2 separate regions of the Homo sapiens genome follow, and region 1 is linked to region 2. Evidence: fine-mapped expression QTL. A gene starts in region 2. The other region holds a variant in brackets. All regions are shown on one strand. Distances are between the middles of the regions.

What was found. PIP is the estimated chance that this variant, and not a neighbour inherited with it, causes the effect.
Region 1: its variant is the best candidate, but not a certain one, in a credible set for the expression of PLEKHG4B in lung (GTEx, PIP 0.79).

Annotation. Positions count from the first base shown.
Region 1 is chr5:178,508-182,890 of GRCh38, forward strand. It overlaps PLEKHG4B (pleckstrin homology and RhoGEF domain containing G4B), which reads left to right. Exons shown (of 20, transcript NM_052909.5): 19 at 3,007-3,168; 20 at 3,497-4,383. The coding sequence ends at 3,816. Among named protein-coding and RNA genes, the nearest start is that of LRRC14B, 11 kb to the right of the region's middle. RefSeq lists an enhancer at 3,254-3,754. The variant T/C (reference allele first, on the strand shown) is at 1,730.
Region 2 is chr5:90,100-94,482 of GRCh38, forward strand. PLEKHG4B (pleckstrin homology and RhoGEF domain containing G4B) reads left to right here and starts at 2,069. Exons shown (of 20, transcript NM_052909.5): 1 at 2,069-2,177. The coding sequence starts at 2,133. RefSeq lists an enhancer at 269-1,108.

The sequences.
Region 1 (4,383 bases), 88 kb after region 2:
TATCCTTATTGGCTTTTTGGCTGCTTATCACTTACTAGGAAAATTATGTGAAAATCTCCCATGATGATGTAAATTTGAATTTGTCTATTTTTCTTTTTGTTCTGTCAATTTTTGCTTCCTATGTTTTGAAGCTAAATTAGTAGGTGCATAGTAATATAGAATTGCTATATCTTCCTAGAAACAGAGCCTCTTTGATCATAATGAAATGCATCTCTTTATTTTTAGCAGTGCCTTTTGCCTTAGATCTACAGTTGTCCCTCTATGTCCATGGGGATGCGGTCCAGGACTCCCCCACGGATACCCAAATCTGCAGTTGTTCAAGTCGCTGATATAAAATGGAACAGTAGTTGCATAGAACCTACACACATGCTCCTATATACTTTAAATCATCTGTAGATTACTTATAATCCATAGTACAATGAAAATGCTTATAAATAGCTGTTATATTGGTTTTTTATTTGTATTTTTAACTTTTATTGTTAATTGCTTTTTGTTCAAATATTTTTGATCCTTGGTGGAACCTGTGGATATGGAACCCACTGATACAGAAGGCCAACTGTGCTTCCTATTAATATAGCTATTCCAGTTTCCTTTTGCAAAGTTAGTGTTTACACGACACATACTTCTCCATCTTCTTACTTGGAACTTTTGGTGTTCTTATATTTGAGATACGTCTCTTGTAAAAGGCATATGTTTGATTTCACTTTTATCTTTTTATCTAGTTTGACTAACCTTGTCTTTAAATTGGAGTAGTGTGTTTACATTTAATGTAATTTGGGTATAAATTGAGTATCTTACTCTTTGTTTTCTACCTATTTGGTGAGAACAGGGGAGTGAGAGAGGAGGGGAAGGCCATGGAGGGTGATTGATGGGCAGGTCCTTGCACACACCCTCTGGAAGACAGGCACACTGAGGCACTGTCCCACATGCTGAGGGACCCCCACATACTGAAGGACCTGGGTGTTTTTCTGCCAACTCCTGTCCCTCATTGTTGAGGCTCCTCCTGGTGTGTGAACCACCTGATGCTTCTGTCCCATCCACAGGAAGGCGGGGAACACCCCCCAGGCAGAGAGACCTGGGCAGCCACCGCCATGAATGAGAGCTCTCTGGCTGTCCCCAGGCCAGCTATGCTCTGACGGCCAAGCGTGGTGGTCCTTGCCTGTGTCCGAGCGTGGGGTTAGTTCTGGAACATTTGATCACTTCTCCTGCTCCACTCTCTGCACTCCACCTGGAACTCCCGATTACACGTATGACCCTTTTACATGTTCCTATGTTTCTCGTGTGATTTCTATGTTTCGATCACGTCTTCCCTGCTTCTGTGTGTTTTCCACTCATCTTAAAGTTCATTGATCTGCTTTGCTATTAAACTCACTTATTTCATTATTGGTTTATTTTTGATATGTAGGTTTGTGTTTGATTCCTTTTATTTGATGGATTTCGGTTTCCTTTTGAGACTCTCTATCCTGTGATCTACTTCCTGCCACATTAATCCTGGTTACCTCCACGGCCTGTCTGAGACGTCCAAACCTTTATCTCGTGGATGTTTAATTATCTGGGGTTTTCCTCAGCCTTTCCTCATTTTGTCCTTTCTCTGGGTGTGCCTGATAATTTTTTTATTAAGTAGTAGATATGATGTAGGAAATGTGTAAGGATCATTTGAGGCCCGGGCTGGTGTCTTCACCTCCAGAGGATTTATTTTTGTTGGAAGAGCAGGGGTGGTTCATCTGAA[T/C]GCACTCCGGGGAGGGACTGCATGAAGTCCGCCTCAGACCTTTGGGCAGCTGATCCAGCTTCCGTTTGTCCCACTCCTGGCAAAGTCCATGCTCCCTTTTCAGGTCCCCACTGAATGTCTGGGAGTTTCCCAGGCCCTTCCTCCCAGTGGTCCTTGAATTCCAGATTTTATCTCCCCACCCTGTGCGTTTTCAGAAGCTCTCAGCCTCCAAGCTCCAAGATGAGCTCTCTGCTCATCGGCCACCAGCAGTGCCCTGAGGGGTAGAAAGGTGTCAAGTTTCCAGTGGCCTGTGAACGCCACATCTGCCCAGGACATTGGCCCTTTGAGGCTAGATTGCCTTGTCACCTCCAGAAAACCTTCAAAAAGTGTGTCCAGCTTTTCTGGTTGTTCTTGGCCGTGGGCTTGGATGTAAGGTACACGAGCAAACCCACTGCAGCCAGAGCAGGAAGCTGTCCCGCGTCCACGTGCACAGCTCTAACCCTAAAATAGCCTTCGGAGTTAGGGGAAGAGCAATGTCCTGTTCACTGCCCAACTCCAAGCCCTGTGTCCCGGGCAGCCACACTCAGCCCTTTCCCTGCAAGAGGGGACACTCGCTCTTGATAAACCAGCTTTGCACATTACCTATTGGTGAAGATGATCAGTAACTCTGTGACTGTAGCACACACACACCGCACTTCTTCCCGTTCTCCCAAGACCTCTGGAAAACAATTCTTACTATAATATTCTTCAGCATAGGCATTAGGACTACATACATGCAATTATGTTTTCTGTCCTCATACATTTTCCTTACAATTAATATCATCTTTTTTCTTTGCTTAATTTGACCAAGAATAAGTTCATTCCCAAACTCTCACCTTATGCTTAGCTCTCCTCTCAATATTCAAACTCCTAGAAACCTGTTGTTTTGTCTTTCCCATGGACACGGCTCCCAGGCCTCTGACCCCTGCTCTAATTGGGACCTGCTGTGTGGCCCTCCCTTGCTTACCAGCTGACAGGAACCCTTCCTCACCCCCAGGTTGGACACGCCGTTTCCAAGGCCTCATGGCTTCCTTTTTCTTGGTTACTGCCTCGGGCTCCCTGGGAGAGATCTCTTTGGTGCCGAAAACCGGAATGGGAAGCCTCAGCACCCTGGCCCCCCATGCCCCTCGTGGGGCAGGGTGGGTATACCCTGTACACCCTCCTGGTTTGGGCTGAGGGCATTAGGGGTACCGGGCGTCTTTGGGGTGGCATTAGCCCCCGAGTTGCTTTGGAAACTGTCATACTTTCTTCTGTCTTAGAACTCAGAATCCAAGAAATGGCATCCATGGGTATAGGCAACCAGCCATTCATGGATGTCAAGCCCAGAGACCGGACCCCTGACTGTGCAGTGATAAGCGACCGGGCTCCCAAATGTGCAGTGATGAGCGACCGAGTCCCCGACAGCATCGTCAAGGGCACAGGTACGGTGGCTCGGTCCCGCCCTCACTCACCCTGCAGAGGGCACTGGGCCTGTCATCAAGGGCATGGGTACGGTGGCATCGGCCCCACCCTCACTCGCCCACAGAGTGCACCAGGCCTGTCGTCAAGGACACGGGTACGGTGGCCTCGGCCCCGCCCTCACTCATCCTGCAGAGGGCACTGGGCCAGTGGCCGACATGGTGGGTTGGATGGGCATGACTGCAGTGGCAAAGCCTGGTCGGCCTTTCAGACGGCTCTGATCCCATTCCCGAACCTGGGCTGCACTTCTGGAGCGGAAGCCAGCCTGACGTGCTTTCTGTCCCTTTCCAGAGTCACAAATGAGAGGGTCCACAGCGGTGTCCTCCTCTGACCACGCCGCCCCCTTCAAGCGACCACACTCCACCATCTCAGACAGCAGCACCTCCTCTTCTAGCAGCCAGTCCTCCTCCATCCTGGGGTCGCTGGGCCTGCTTGTGTCCTCCAGCCCAGCCCACCCGGGCCTATGGAGCCCTGCCCACAGCCCCTGGTCATCTGATATCAGAGCCTGCGTCGAGGAAGATGAGCCAGAGCCAGAACTAGAGACGGGCACCCAGGCTGCAGTGTGTGAGGGGGCTCCTGCTGTGCTGCTGAGCCGCACACGCCAGGCCTGATGACTGTCAGGGTGGCAGTGCCCATCATGTGGCTAGAACAATACAGAGGGAGCAGCACGCCAGGCCTGATGACTCTGGGGGTGGCGGTGCCCATCGCGTGGCTGGAACGATCCAGAGGGAATAGCACAGCAGGTGTCCAGGTATTTCCCAGGATTTTAGACATTCCCTAACATTTTCAAACAAATTTATAATTTTGTCTTATTTAAAAAACAAACCTTCCACTTCCACCCAAGACAACAGCATAGGAAACAGACCTAAAACAAGACAAAAAAAGACTAAACATGAAACAAAAGATGTCAAGACACAAGACATTTGGCAACAAAGGACCGCGATCCCTGAGAGACAGGAAAACGGGAGGTGAGCCCGGTGATGGCCTCAGACCTCCCTCCGCCTTGAGAGTTTGCAGGCCTCAGTGCAGGGAGGGGCCCAGGAAGAGCCCAGCAGCCTCCGTGAGTTGAAGAGACCAAGTCAGCAGGAGTTGGCAGGTCAGAGTGCCAGAGAGAGATGCCTGCATGGGGAAAGACTCACCAGATCAGCCCCTCCAGCACCTAGTGGGTTGCTACCCAT
Region 2 (4,383 bases):
CCTGCTGAGCTCTCTGAAATGTAAGTCGGAACAGGTCGCTTCCTTTCTAACTCCATCCCCTCTGAGTGTCCCCACTTTCGCTGTGTTTGTGAGCTCACCAGATCTGCCCCCCCCCCACCCCATAGGGCCTTTGCACAGGTGGCTCCTTTGCCTTCAAGTCCCAGGTAGCTTCCTCTCAGTGTCTGCTCAGCCTGCCCCATCAGAGAGGCCTTCCTTGACCGGATTTGTGTTCTGTCCACTGGTTTATTTCCCTCCACTGGAATGTCAGCTTCCCAGAGATGGGGGCTGTGCTGTGACTACCAGTAGTAGTTGATCAGTAAGTACTTTTTGAATAAACCAAGCTATGTTAATAGTCCATGTTTTGGAAAAACTCCCTAGAAAACATCCCTAATTCCATGGATCCATGGCAAAGAAAGAACCAGATCTGTAGAAACGGGCTGGAGAAGCTCACAAAGGACTCCTGGGCTGAGAAAGCCCCACACGGTCCCACTTTCTTTCTGTATAGTGGAGGTGTGGCAGGGGTGAGCTCCTACCACGGGCCCCAAAGTCTCCAGTAAGAGTGAGATTCCGGGCTGCACCCTGACCAGGCGCCACTGGGTCACTGCTGACCGTCCTGGAGGTGCTGAACAGGGATGAAGCCGTTTATTCTGGAGGCATGCCAGCATTCTTGGGTCCTGCTCTGGCAGGAGCTGTGGGGCCACACAGGCTTAGAAAGGTGGCTCCCATCCTGGACAGCACCGTGGGCAGTACTGTCACGAGGACGGGCTGGGAGGAGGGTGTGGCAGGGGTGTTGGGGGCCTCAGGTAGGGGCCAGCACAGAGGGACACCCAGATACCCAGCACAGAGGGCAGGAACAGGTCAGCTCCCTGCCTGGGCTCAGGGATGGGGCTGGAGGTTCTAGGAAGCAGAGCAAGTAAGCAGGACAGGGAACAGTGAGAACACAGGTGTAGATGGAGAATCAAGGCGGGGCGCAGCCAGGGATTCCAGGGAGGAGTAGACAGAAACTCAAGGGAGGGAGGCCTCGAGGGGATCCCAGGGAGGTGTGGACAGGGATTCTAGGAAGGAGTAGACAGAGACTCAAGGAGGCCTCGACGGAGATCCCAGGGAGACTGACTGCCTGCTGCATAGGAGGGAGGCTCCCAGCTGTGTCCCTGAGCTGCATAGGAGGGAGGCTCCCAGCTGTGTCCCTGAGCTTCATCCACTCTGTAACCTGTGACAAAACGGAGCATTATCTGTCAATGAGCACATCTGTGCCGCAGTTTTTGGGATGGTGCCAGGGTAGGGGTGAGGGACAAGTTGAGGGGACAGGTTGAGGTGGGGTCCCTGTGAGGCCCTCCTGGACGGAGTGGACCTTATGAGACACTCCCTAGCTGAATTCCCAGCAGGAAGCTGGTGCCCAGAGCACCCTGGACTAACGGGCGGGAGAGGGACTTTGTTTTGGGAGGCTCTTTGTAGATCAAGGCATTAAAATTGCACCTTTGGGGAAAGCATGTTCCAGAGCACCAGACACCCCGAGGCACCCTGAGTTGTGGGGGGGGAGGGTGATGGAATTTGGGGCCCTCGCTGAAGCCCTTCATTATCCAAGCCAGGCGCGGGGTGGCACGTAGTTCCCACAGCGGCCCCTGGACGGAGGAGAGGGCCTGGGCCGTCCACACCTGCAGAAATCTGGAGCTGGTCCGCCTAGACCAGGGGAAATCGGGGTCCCGTCCGGGTACACTGGCAGAACTCAGGGGTCAGATCCTCTGCCCTGGAGCATTCAGATTTGTGCCTCTACGTTATGGAAACCAGGGGCCCGTCCGGGTGCAACGTGGCATCCACAAAATGGCAGGTCCCCGAGCTCCGGGCTCCGAGAGAACAAAAGCAGAAGCCACTGCCGCCCGCGCTCGGGGAGGAGCCGCCCAGGTGGGCGCGTCCGGGGCTAGGCGGGAGCTGCGCAGCCGGGTCCAGGGGAGACGCCCCGCCCCGGCCGGACCCTCGGAGCCTCCTAGGGGAGACCCCGGCCCCGCCCCTCTCTCGCCCGGATCGGGCGGGGCCCCGGGAACGCGCGCGGCGAAGGCGGCCTCGGCCCAGTGCACAGCGGGACCAGGCAGAGTTCGGGGAAAGCGTCGGAGTTCGGGAGACCAGGGTCCAGCATGGGTTTCAGCACAGCAGACGGCGGGGGCGGCCCAGGCGCCCGGGTAAGAGGGGGCACGGGGACTGCGGCGGGTGGGGGCGCGAGCGGACGCGGGAGTAGGGGCGGGTGGGGGCGCGGGGGTAGGGGCGGGGTGGGGGGGGGCGCCGGAGTAGGGGCGGGTGGGGGCGCGGGGGTAGGGGTGGGGTGGGGGCGCGAGCGGACGCGGGAGTAGGGGCGGGTGGGGGCGCCGGGGTAGGGGCGGGTGGGGGCGCGGGGGTAGGGGCGGGGTGAAGGCGCGAGCATCAAGGCGGGCGGGCGCGGGGACTGGGGTGGGAGGGGGCGCGGGTACCCAGACGTGCTGGGGGTCCTGGCGTGGGTCCTGGGACCTGCCGGCGGCTGCTGCGGGAACGGGAGGGAGCTTCTTCAGGCACCCTTTTCCTTGTAACCTCGTGAATACTCGGGAGAAGAAATAACGCTTTCTGGACAGATTTGCCCTCTCGGTGCCTGAAGGGGAGCCAGGGGAGGGGAGTCTGAAATCTCATCGCCAAAACTGAGAGTTGCTAAGTTACTCTTCAGCTCAAACCGGTGGGACAGAACAGTGATCTGTGGTGGCCCGGAACAAAGAGAATTTTTACTTAAAAATACCAAGATTGACTTTTGTGTTGGAGTGCTAGTTGATTTGAGTAAGAAACATTTGCTAGTAAAACAAGACAGTTATTTCAGCTTTGGTGAAAGAGTGATAAAGCTGTTTTCAGGTTTTTCATGTGAGTTGCAAAAAGTATATTGGGTTTGCCTTTCCCTGTTTCGTGTGAAACTAAAGAGTGGTTGAGGTGAGGTAATTACACTCTACTCCTGTTACCCAACAGCACTTTTGCCTAAAAAGTTTAGTTGGTACGTCTAGGTGTCTAATTAAGAATTGAAACATATAATTTAAAAATTAAGTTAAATGTCATTGAAACGGTGCATAATTGATACTTTTGACTGAGCCTTAGGCAGCTGGGTGGGTCCTGAATCAAGATTCCTGGGAAGGTAGGTTTCTCAGCTTCCCGAAGAGATTTAATGTAAATCTTCATGTAATGTGGACAAAGGTGAGTTTTAGCTTTCAATTTCCCTGAGCCTGCCTCGAATTCACAAAATTCCAGGCTCTCTGGGTCAGAAGGAACTTCGGAGATCTTGAGGAGGCCGCCGTCTCCGAGATTCTGTGATATATTCAGCATTTCCATTCCCTATGGGATCACAACCCACTGGGAAGCAGTGTTTGGTGACCCCCCCACCGAGAAGTGGGTTCATATTCCTGCTTCTGAGGAGATACCAGGTTTTTATTTCACTGTGCGGCATCCGGTGTGCAAATGCAGATGTGGCCTGGGCTGGGAGCACACAGGCTTGACCCCGCAGGCAGCCGGTAGGCCAGGGTGTCAGGTCCCCTGTGTTAGCCGGAGCCTTCTCATCTTTTATCCTGGTAGAGGGGCGCTGCTGGCCTTTCTGGGGGGTGGGTCTAGTCTGAAATCACCTTTGTGGGATCTGTGGCACTGGCTAGCTCTCAAGCTGGCCGGTGGTCTCAAAGGAATTCTTCGTTACTTGTAAAGTAGCCCAGAAATGCTGGGCTGAGGAAGTAATTTGCCCCAAGGCTCCCTGAGACCTGTATTCACAGGTTGTATCATCCAGCCAAACACAGGAGGCCCCAGATCCCCAGATCTCAGAGATTTTTGTGGGAAATCATCTGAGTCTAGCTCAGACACCACTGCCTCCCTCCTTCCAAACAGAATGAGTTTGTCCTCTCTTTGCGTTTGAACAAAAGTCAGGCCATCTAGAGCCTCCTAACTCTCACCTCAGACCTCCAAGGTGGGGCTACTCATTCTATAGATAGTGGAAATTGAGGCTTCAACACCTGCCCAGCATCTCACTGCCAAGAAGCAGCAAAGCTAGGTTTGAGCCAAACTCAAGGTCCTGGTTCTCCTTCTCCCCTCAAGGGCCCTGAAATTTTGGTGCCTCTCCTGGCTGATACAGCATCAGTGCTTCTGTGCCCTGCGGCAGCGGTTCTGTTCCCCACCTGGGTCGCCCCACACCTGGCAGGGCAGGTGCTCCCTGTGGACAGGCCAGTGCTGTTGGGTCCAGCCAAGACCTCAGGTGCCACGTGTGTGGTGAGGGGCTCCCTTCTTCCACCATGCTGTTGAAGACAGAGCCTCAGACTTTGTCTGACCCGAGACCCCAACGTGCTTCTGAGCAGGGGGAGAGTGAAGAGGGGTAGGCTGGGATGAGTGGGTGGCGGG